Homo sapiens: one gene and its partners. The protein of the gene in region 3 interacts with the protein of the main gene of each other region in a biochemical or structural test. Each region holds a gene or a part of one and is shown on either strand. Other genes may lie near its edges.

Evidence for each region.
Region 1: of the proteins of HMGN1 (region 3) and RPS6KA3, one has a biochemical effect on the other in vitro, tested with the Homo sapiens proteins (one study listed by BioGRID).
Region 2: the proteins of HMGN1 (region 3) and HPF1 form a complex in vitro, tested with the Homo sapiens proteins (one study listed by BioGRID).

The regions. Positions count from the first base shown.
Region 1 is NC_000023.11:20,260,273-20,264,025, reverse strand, and holds part of RPS6KA3 (ribosomal protein S6 kinase alpha-3), read left to right. Parts: intron 1-3,753. UniProt on the Homo sapiens protein: Serine/threonine-protein kinase that acts downstream of ERK (MAPK1/ERK2 and MAPK3/ERK1) signaling and mediates mitogenic and stress-induced activation of the transcription factors CREB1, ETV1/ER81 and NR4A1/NUR77, regulates translation through RPS6 and EIF4B phosphorylation, and mediates cellular proliferation, survival, and differentiation by modulating mTOR signaling and repressing pro-apoptotic function of BAD and DAPK1.
Region 2 is NC_000004.12:169,744,245-169,747,997, forward strand, and holds part of HPF1 (histone PARylation factor 1), read right to left. Parts: intron 1-3,753. UniProt on the Homo sapiens protein: Cofactor for serine ADP-ribosylation that confers serine specificity on PARP1 and PARP2 and plays a key role in DNA damage response.
Region 3 is NC_000021.9:39,347,193-39,350,945, forward strand, and holds the start of HMGN1 (non-histone chromosomal protein HMG-14), read right to left. Parts: upstream 1,897-3,753; 5' UTR 1,726-1,896; coding exon 1,711-1,725; intron 1,414-1,710; exon of another isoform or gene 1,386-1,413; coding exon 1,353-1,385; intron 1,262-1,352; exon of another isoform or gene 1,260-1,261; coding exon 1,230-1,259; intron 1,148-1,229; coding exon 1,100-1,147; intron 751-1,099; exon of another isoform or gene 187-750; intron 101-186; exon of another isoform or gene 1-100. UniProt on the Homo sapiens protein: Binds to the inner side of the nucleosomal DNA thus altering the interaction between the DNA and the histone octamer. May be involved in the process which maintains transcribable genes in a unique chromatin conformation.

The DNA of each region.
Region 1 (3,753 bases), on a different chromosome or scaffold from region 3:
TCCTCCCCCAGTAGGTTCCTATCAGATAATTGTATTTTACCAGAGTAACATAGTTTTTTTTAGAGTCATTTACTTGAGTGAATACATCAAAATATTTCTCTCCAGGTTAAAAGATTTCAGGATTGGTCTGTGTAGGAGTTTACATTTATGGTCTCATCCCTAGTACACTGTGAATTCTTGAAAGCAGACATTTTTCCCCCCCTCTCTGAATCCTCAGCATTCAGCACAATGCCTGGCCCTGACATATTGTGGACTTAATAAATATCTGCTGAATGAATCATGAAAGTCAGGAATAGGATGATTATGAATCTTATCTGTTTTTTATCATTTTAATCTCATTAAAATATGAACAATTTAAAAAGACCTCAGTGCCTCAGTAAAAACACAGGCAGTTTCTTCAGTTCCTTTACACTGGCCTTCCTGCTTTAAGACCTCACACGAATCTCATGGTGTTCAAAACAAAAAAACCCTTGTGGTTAAACTCAAACGTGGGTCAGAACATGATAGGCTAGAACTAGGCCAAATGTTTAAAGAAGCAAATTTAGGATAATAAAGGAAGTACTATGTAAGCAAAGTAAGGGTTGGTACAAGATAAAAAACAAACTAGCTTCCTAACTGGTCTAGGTGAACTCTTTAGTGAGTTACTTAAAGATGCTAATATGCTTTTGAATATTTGACTGTTTAGAGGATGGATAGGTAGGAATTATGGCTCTTCTGTTGTACAAATTCTTTGCCAGTGCTGTCAGAGACAGCATTTAGTGGATCATAAGCCTGACCTAGAGTGATACTTTTTTCTCCACTGCAATAGAGTAGGTATAAATGATAGTAAATCTAAATATGAAGTTTTCAAAATGATAAAATTATGGAGGTTATTTTTGTTTTATAGAAATGTGTTATATAAAATAGCCACAATATAATGTGTTGTATACAATGTGTATTAAACAATGTGTTGTATGAAAATAGCTACCTCGACTTCCTTTAAATAACAGGTACCCATGATGCACTGAAAAATATTTAAAAAATCAACTATATAAGTATTTTATTATAGAAAATGAGGCCTTTGTGTGGGAGATCATGTTTAGTGAATGTGCAGCCATTTTTAACCTCAAAGATTATGTAGTATTCTATAGTATAGTACATAGATTTTATAGTATTTCTACTATATCAATATTATATAGGTTTCTTATTTTATCTATAGGGAAAATGCTCTATTAAAGTATAATCATTGATTTTGAAAAAAAATGTTTTATTGTTTCTTTTCCTTTTCCTGTTTTATTTTTACCACCTTTCAGGTTTTTTTCTTTCCCCTAAGTGAAGATCTGAGGAGAGGACAGGTATTGTTACATGTCAACTGTCAAGTAACTGTGACCCATTACTGAACACTTCATTGTTTTCAGTGATTATGATAGAGGATGTCAGTTTTGTAAAATCTAGAAAACTTTGCTTTATTTTGGCAGCTTGATCCTGTAGTAATGGGGTAGATTCAAAATGTGAAACTTGCTGGATGCATTTAAATTTTATTAATAAAACTTTTATCTAATTGCAGGAGCAAATATAGGCAGACTTTGTCTTCTCTTTAGTATACATTTCTGGAAACCACAATAAGTATATCTTATTTTTAATAAGACAGGTGGCATAATTGGACTGTGTACTCCTGACCAAGGACTTGACATTTGCTAAATTATAGAATGACCAAAAATACAGATCACTTATCTAGAAGTCTGAGTTGCAGAACAATTGTCCTAAAGTTTTTAAAAATTTTTATTACTAAGAAATTCATACCATTGTGATAATTAACAAGATTTGCTCTACAGTTCAATGCTCAGGGACATGTGATCTGCCAGGCTGTGAATGATGGGTAAGGTCACACTTGCCTGGTTGACCCAGTGCAGAATGGGTGCTTTAGACCCAACGGTTCAGATTATAATGAATGACACACTGACATGGTGGTGGTCTCACTGGTAATGCCTGCGTGTGATAGTGCTCAGTTGTTTATGTGCTTTGGTGGATAACACATTTTAAAGCATTGAAATGCAGCTGTGCAAGTACATATATTATACATCCCGTTCCCCAATTCACATAAATAGAAAAAAACAAGTATCTAAATTGTAATACCTAGCATTCAATGTCTTCCTTCCACCCCACTCCCATCAGTGTGTTCTTTTGGAATTAATACAGTGACCTGTATCATTAACCTGGAGATATCAGATCTCAGATATTCTAGTTTATCAGTTAAACACCAAAAAGCATTAAAACAAAGAAAAACTACCCTATTTAATCGTTCAGTAAAAACTACCATATTTAATCATTAAGTTTTGTCATGATTTAGCAAAACAAACGCAAATGTGTGTGTGTCTGTGTGTGTATGTGTTTTATAAAACAGGTTCAGGATAAAATGTATCCATATAGCACATTATGATTATTTTAATACATTTGGCCTATTTATTTTTTGACAGTTTATCAAGTTGTACAATTTAAAAGCCAATATTTATTAATCCCTAATGTACAGAAACATAGGAGGAAGTTGTCTCTTTGGTTAAACAAACTGTTGAAAGATAAACTTTGGCACACCAAAATGTTTACTTTTCAATTGATAAATAATATTTGTACATTTTTATGGGGTCATGTGATATTTTGTTCCATGCATAGAATGTGTAATGATCACATCAGGGTATTTGGGATATCCATTAATCATTTCTGTGTGTTGGGAACATTTCAAATCCTCTCTTTTAACTATTCTGAAATATATAAAACATTGTTATTAACTATAGTCACCCTACTCTACTCTGCTATCCATTGTTAGAACTTATTCCTTCTATCCAATTGTATGTACTGTGCCCATTAACCAACCTTTCTTCACCCCCACCCCCTCTGTAACCCCCACACTCGTCCTATCCTCTAGTAACTCTCATTCTGAGTAGAAACTCCCTACCTATGAGTCCCACGTGTGAGTAAGAACATGCAGTATTTGTCTTTTTGTCATGTGACCTATTTTAAGCAAATACATTAGTTACTAGTAATTAAGTAATTTGGTTTTTGCTCATTCTTAAAACTTAGAAGGGACTTTGTGGGGTTATTTGGATTAATAGCAAAGTGTTAAAGAACATAAGCTCTGGAGCCATAAAGACCTGTGTTTGAGTCCTGGCTCTGCCACTTAATAACTTTGTAACCCTATGCAAGTTATATTTAATATCTCTATACTTCAACATCCTAATTTGTAAAATAGGGATGAAAATAATGTCTACCTCATAGAGTTTTGGTGAGAATTAAATGAAATGATAATATATGTAAAGTACTTGGTTCAGTACATGGTTTAAGTTTTTAATAAACAATAGTTACAATGAATCATCCCTCTTAAAGAACTGTCTCAGTTCTTTGTTTTTCCTCTGGGGTAATTTTTTAGAATCCAGCAAAGCAATTAAAAGTGATTTATTTGATTGATCAGTTTAAATAGTCATGGTAATATCTGAACGTAATTGAAAGGGCAAGGGGAACAGAAATCTCTTTAATCTTACCCTTTTTGCATTGATCCCTTCCTCAGTATTGTCTTTAAAGGGAAAAAACAACATTGTGAAGAATATATGTGGAAGAAGGAAGAAAGGAAAGTTTGTTCACATTTTTAACATTGCTCAAATTGGAAGATGTCTCACAGTCCATGGGATGTCATAGTTTAATTAGCAGCATGTTTTTCCTTAACAATATATAAAATAATAGTGTATCTTACACTTGATTGTATCTTTTAATCAATGAAAT
Region 2 (3,753 bases), on a different chromosome or scaffold from region 3:
TTCTTCCCATTCTTTCTAGTAAGTTCTTAGGCATCCATCAAAGCCCACATAAAATATCCTCTTTTACCTCTGCCACTATTGAAGGCACTTGGTAGCTGCCTTCCCATACATATGACATTATTATGACTATCTCTGTAAGTTTTTGTCTCTGCCGAAACCTACTCTAACACTTTACTGTGTGATGCTTAAAGATAAGGTGCGATGTGCAACTGAAGCCATAACCATGAACGTGAACATTTTGTGCTGTGACTTTAAATCCATTAGAATGTCTTCAACGCAAATGAATTTGTACCCATGCATGTTATATGGCATCATGCAATGGCCCTTTGGAAATAGTGGTTTACTAAGTTATATAGATGTAAGTGTTGAAACTTATATATCAAATTCATTACATAACATTATGAAAAAAAGCTATTGCGCTCACAGTGGTATTACAAGTTTCTCAATCTAATTTTTATTTGAAACCCTGAATTTTATCACTGACAAAAAATATAGTCAGTTGTTTTCTTTGGTTCATTTGAGAGAATTCCTGCCAGTAGCTAGACCCAAATAACCAGTTTGTCAATGAGTCACTCTTTTTTTTTTTTGCATTCCAATCTTGGGTTTATTCAACACAATTCTTCCACTCTACACAACAAAGTACAAACACAATGTCATCTAAAATGCTACAAAGGTATAAAACTCAAAGAGAAATTTTATAGTACTGACTGTACAATAAGAAAAAAAAAGAAAAGCAATGTACATGTTGCCAAGATAACCTGAAAGACCACCATGAAGGACAGGCACAACCATGGCTGCGGGATGACCCCACAGAGCTGGCTCTCAACTCACTCGCCAATTTCAGAGTAGGGTGGTGGGGTGGTGTGTGTGCATAGGTGCACGGACAGACAGAACCATGCACAGCAACTACCATGGGTGAGAGGATCTTTGGGGGTGTGTGACCCTTGAAGTCGGAAGAGGCCTCGAGAGGCCGGGCCTAACAGGGTTGGCAGCTGCACTAAACCCTGGGGCAGCTCCCTTTCCAAAAGGACACTGCCCAGCGACAGCAAGGGCACGGCCTGGCCACCATCCCAGGTCATCAGGGAAGGGAAAAGTGTGCTCCCAGGTAGGCAGGGTCAAAGCACCCCCAAGAGTCTTACTTGTCCCTGGTGGCTCTGCCACTGAACTGACTCTTAGAAACTGGAAATGGGTGAGCTTTCTAGCCAGAAAACCAGAGGGAATCTTGACAGGCACACAGTCAATGAGTCACTCTTTCTAAAAGTGGGGAAAAGTTCATCTCAAAATTCAATCATACAAGGGCTTTTTTTTCCCTTGAGACAAACCACAGTACTTCAGTATGAGAAATGCTTTCTATGTATTTCCTATTTCATCACAGAATGTTAAAGAGATGAACTCAATGGTAGACATCTAATACATGTATACTCCAACACTGACATTTTTCAGGCACAGGGTCTTGCTATGTCGTTTAGGATGAACTTGAACTCCTGGGCTCGAGCAATGCTCCCACCTCAACATCCCGAGTAGCCACCATGCCTGGCTCCATCACAAACATTTTTAAATACATTTGCATGTTACTGCTGTGAATAATGCAATGACTGCTGCTACCCTGGTGGCACTATCTTGATTCCTGCCAAGGTGACAACAGTATTATCCACTATTTACTTTGTGCCATTGGTGCAAAAATAACATTTTATTATCACAAATAGTTTTGACCTTAAGGGTCCCTGACCCAAGGTCAAAACTGTTTACCCCAGTTATTTTAGGAAAATAAATAAGGCAGAAGGAAAAAAAAAATCATTCCTTTGTTGTTCAAAGTTATTTAAGAATTATGTTTACTTCCATATGCATTAGACAGTATGAAATGGAATCATTCTACACTATTGTTATTTGCCCACTTCATAACAAATTCAACAAATCAATACCAAAGTATTATAGTATATGGATAGTTTATATTTACCTAATCTTCCCTATTGCTGGATATGTTGCCAATTTTTCATTTGATAAACAATCTGTAATACACATATTTCTGTACCTGTCCAAAATCCCTTTAATAAACAGCTAGAAGTGAAATTGCTAACTTAAGGGTATAAATGTGTACTTCACATAGTACCTGACAATGTCACCTATTAAGAAATCTTAGAATATGCTTTCTAAGTTAACATTTTTCAAATGTTAACATTAAACATTTTTCAAACTGCTTTCTACAAAAGTTTTACCAATTAACACATCAGTAAGGGTTCTTATACCCTAACCATCATTGGTTATTACCATTCTTTAACCTTTAAAAAAAATCTTTGCTGGTTAAATTGGCATTTCTTTAGTTACTATTAAATCTTGCAGACACAAGATTTAATAATAACTAAAGATAAAAATGTGTTGATCAAAGGTATGCCTTGAAAGACCTTATTCAGTCTGCCATAAAAATAAATTTTAAAATATATAAAGAAATTAAGTGTTCTGGTTAGCTGATTTAAGGAGGTAGTACCTAAAAAACTAAAACCGTTATAATACTTTAAAAGTACTAAAATAGTTATATCTCAAGTAATTTTTTACCCCTGTTTGAGATAAATTATTGGAGGTAGTTCCTCAAATACTCACTTGCTGATCTTCACCTAAGTTATAAATATCACCCATGCATTTTTTTTTTCTTTTTCATTGTCTATGTTCTCCAATTAGCTTAAAAAAAAAAAAAGATACCAGAAGAGTCTTGGGTTATGTTACATGACCACTATTATGTTATCTTTTTTTAAAAAAAAAAAAAAACATGACTAATAACACAAATGAAAAGTTAGGCTTGTTTTTCGAAAAAGAGACAGTCTCACTATGTTGCCCAGCCTGAAAAAATTAGGTGTTTTTACATGCCAAGGTATTTATAGAATTAATATTTATGGAGCATCTAGTATGGGGCAGATACTCTGCCCTCGTGGAACTTAACATGCTAGTGCAAGAGACAGACAATAAGCAAGAAAACAACAAGAGTTTCTAATAAAGATGGCACCAATTTAAATTGAATGATAAATCCAAAGAGTTTAAAAGAAGTTATAAATTACAAATACCAAGTAACATTTTATAGGAAACTGAGAGGTATTAGAAAAGAAAGAACATTTTTGGACATCTACAATGTAGCTGCCTTGTAGATACACCAGTATGTACGTAGCATAGTCTAGTGGTTGTAGTAGGGTGATTTAGTTTGAATTCACTTTACTGCAAATTTGTATGATCAAATCACAGGGAACAACAGCCCTTTAAAGAGACAGTACTAAAAGAGGTCAAAGAAAAGATAATCTACTTGTATTTGAAGTGATAAAGTTTGCTTTCTTCATTACAATGCAAACTACACAGCTGCTGACAAATAAAATGGCTTCAAGTCATGTCTGTGGCTGATATAGCACAGACTGGCTCACTCACCTCTATTCCAACCCCTTCCCCATGAAAGTTCACTGCATTTCCCATACTACTCTTTAGCTCAGGCTCCACATGGGACCTATCTTCTTCCAAGCAGCTGCAATACTTTGAAATCTCAGAGGCAGAAGAGATACCACATGGAGGCTGTGCTTCCACGATCTCCATCAATGAGCACAGCTGTAGAGGCATCTGATGGTTCTGCAGCAGCTGTAGCTGAGATCCCAGCACCTGGTTCTTAGCTTCACGGGGGCTGAGAGGCAAAGAGTAGGGCATCCATTTACCTGGCCCAGATTATACCAAAGATAATGTGGTCCTAGAGCCACTCACTGTGGCAGCAGTTCTCGAATT
Region 3 (3,753 bases):
CACATGGTCTTCTGGTAATGAGAAATTTAAAGTTGAAAAATACTATTCTCATACCTTCCGTGAAGCTTTATTTTTAAAAGGATCACAAAAACAGAACTTTCTGTTAAAGAAAACATAGTTAACATTTTTACACTCAGCTCTGTAAAAAATTTAAATTAAAAAAGAAAAAACATCTTTGTTTTATACCTTTATTTAACAAGGACAAATTTAGTAATTATCCAACAACTCCTCAATGTCAAGGAAATTAATCTTGCCTCTTCTGATGACTGCAGTGCTAAACTTCTACCTACACTTTTAGGAAAGAGGTGAAGGCATTAACAAAAATTTTTTTTGAGACTTCAAATAGCAAACTCTCACCTAAGTTTTGGATAAAAATTAATCACCCCGCGAAGAACATGTAGAGCTTTACAGGTTTCAATGCTATATCCAAACACAAAGCTTATACTTGTTTTACACATGTTCTGCTTTTCCACCCTGCAAGTTATCAAACACACGTACACCCAAAGCCAACTTCATTCTACAGACCTGCAATTCGAATCATGCAATCACGAATTTGTTAGGGAGCAGCCAAAATCACGGTTTTGTATAACTGCTGATGAACACTTCCAGAGTAGTGGCGGTTATTTTCTCAGAGATCACAACTTTTTACCTCCCCACCCCCACCCCGTAAAAAGGTTAAGGCTTCCCGAAGTTGGCTTGGAAACTGTATATATAAAAACTTACACGTTCCCTTTCTCCTGGCCTCGGTGCTATCTTGACTCTTTTATTGTCAAAAAAGGAAGTACAAGCACGAATTAAAAGCCAAGCACCAGCCACAATGTACGCAACGCAAAGAATAAATTTCCTTTGTAGACTTAATATTTAATATTTTTTGTCGTCCTAAGTCTCCTAACATCTGCAGCAGCATTAGTGTGATATAGTTCTATAAACCAGGATGAATATATCCATTACATTTTTGCCTCGACCACTAGAAAAATTATTTACCGTAATTATTAAAGTATAAATAAAGCTCCAATAGCTAATCAAAATGGAAGCCCCGCATTAAGAAGCAGTGTAGCCTAAGGCCCCGCTGCATCCCAATGCGCGTTTCGAGGCTTACCTTCGCTGCTGCCTTTTTCGGCTTCGCTTCCACTTTTGCAGGAGGTTTCTGAAAGGCAAAAGCAGCACTGAGCGTCCTCACCCGGGACGACCCGCGGAAAACGAACGGTTACGGGGCTCGCTTTACTTACAGCTGACAACCGCGCCGATCTCCTCTTGGGCTTGGAGAAAGAAAAAGGAGAGTCAGCGAGAAGAGAAGGCAGGCCAGCGGCTCACGGGAAACCCACCACCCCCCGCAGAAGGCCCGCACTCACCTCTTCCTTGGCGGCGCCTTCGGCGGAGCTGACCTGCGGAGACGGAGACGCACGAATAGAGGCGGGCCGCAGTCCCAGGACTCGCGGGCCCGCCCGGCCCCGAGAACAATGCCCGGCCGCGTGACGTCACGGCTTCCCGCCGCCCCGTTCGAATAGCCCCCTCAGCTCCCCCGGCCGCCAAACGTTCCAGAACGCCCGCCCCCGCGGCCGCCGAGCGCTCGCCTGCCCGCCCGCCGGTCTCCAAGCGCCTCCCGGGCCCGTCGCCACCGTGGGTGCAACGGGGCCTGGGCCTCGCGGGGCCCGGCGGGGCGCCGGCGGCGGCTCCAGGGGGCGTGTGCGGGCCGCGGCCGCCGCTCACCTTCCTCTTGGGCATCGTGGCGGCGGGGAAGGCGCGTGCCGGGTGCCTGCGGGGAAGGCGCGTGCCGGGTGCCTGCGGGCCGCGGCGCGCCGACAGCCTTCGCGAAACTGGGCTGCCTTGCCGCTGCCACTCCTCCCGCCGCCCGAGCTGCTGAGACCCACAGCGGGGGCGGTGGGAGAACCGGATGGAACCGGATTGGGAGCCCGCCTCCTCCTCCCCCCGCGTCCCCGGCCGCGGGCTCCCCCTCCCCGCCGGCCGGGCCGCCCCCCACCCCCGCCCATTGGCTACGGGACTCAGCCCGCGCCCGGAATAGGTGAGGCGGGCCCTTAATTGATCCCGGACCCCGCCCCCTTCCGGGGGCCCCCCCCCCCCCCCCGGGCGCCCCCACCCCTTTCCGCCGTCTCGCGGGGCCCCAGACCCAGGCGAAGGGGGCGGGGTCCCAGTGGCGCTCCGGCCTCACGGTAGTTTGAAGCCGAGCCGCAAAGTGCGGTCTGCGCGCTGATTGGCGGACGCACGTCACGGGACCGCGGGTCCCCACCCACAATTCTTCTGGATACCTGGGCGCCTTCAGGCCACTGGTATCTGGCCCCTCCCCTCCGGGGTGAATTGGGTTCGAACATTTATAGTTCGTATCTTAGACTGGGAAGGGAGAAGGATAAGGTATACAGGAAGTAGCAAATTTCTCCCGCCTCTGTCGGCAAGAAAGGCTATCCAGGGGCTCCAGCTTCGCAGGCCTGCGTGAAGCGGGCCCTGGTGCGCAGGCGCTGCAGGAGGGCGTGGGAAGGAGAGCCGACGCGGCCTTTCTGTGTAACTTCCTTCCTTCCTTCCTTTTATTTGAGACAGGGTCTCGTTGTGTCGTCCAGGCTGGAGTGCAGTGGTGCGATCACGGCTCATTGCAGCCTCGACCCCTTCGGCTCCAGCGAACCTCCCACTCCGGCCTCCCGAGTAGCTGGGACCACAGGGCACCATTTTGCCCAGCTAACTTTTGTATTTTTTGTAGAGAGGGGGTTTCACTATGTTGCACAGCATGGTCTCCGACTCCTGGGCTCAAGCGATCCTCCCGCCTCGGCCTCCCAAAGTGCTGGGGATCCAAGCTGTGGAACTTTCTTCAGATTTCCCTGGAGGACTGCAGGTGCACGAGGGTCGTTTCTGGGCCCAGAGTAGGGCAGCTCTCAGATTGCAGCTCCTGAGAGCCGTGCGCGACCGTCTCCAGCACTCGCGGACCCCCAGAGGGCTGTTTTTTTTTCTCCATAGCATTGATTGAATATATATCCTTATACATTCCATATATATCTCAGGAAGAATACACAAGGAAGTGGTACCAGCGGTTGCCTCTGGGGAAAAGTGGGAAGATTGAGGGTAAAATTTCCCTTTTCTCGTGTGTAATTTTTTTTCACTTTCCTATCTGCATGGATTACCTTAAAAAAATTCAACATCAGAGAGTACCCAAGTTTGTGGCACAAGCATGTACTGAGCACCTGCCCTGTGGCAGGCACCGTGAAGTCCCTGGGGTAGAGAGAATCCAGGTTTGTATCCCAAGCACTGGGTCTAGTAATTTAGTGGGGAGAGAAAGTACCCAATTGGCCTAGTAAAGAAAGGGGAAGCCATCGGCAGGGGGGGTCAGCATATTTCAAGGCATGCTGACTTGCTAGAGTGTGGCAGCCCACCAAGACCTTTAAAGTGGCAGGGATGGAGATACGAAAAATGGACGTAAAGATCAGGGAAAAGAGGCAGAAAAAAAGAAGAGCAGCCCGTCATGAAGTTCGATCATTATCCAAAGATTGAGGGATACTGCAAGGTCTTAAGCAAGCGAACTCTATGCTTTTGGACTTACCTCATAAAGAACTTTCTCCCATAAGAACCGAAGATGCGCTAGGCCAGAGGTGACAACTGATGGTCCACAGATGTTTTATTTGGCCTAGTTTTTTTTAAGTTGCCAACACAAACAAATGGAGCAGCCAGAACTCAAATGAAAAACTATTTGGCAGTAGATTCCACTACTCATCAGCATGGGGGTTTTGACCTGCTCCGTTTCTGACCTGA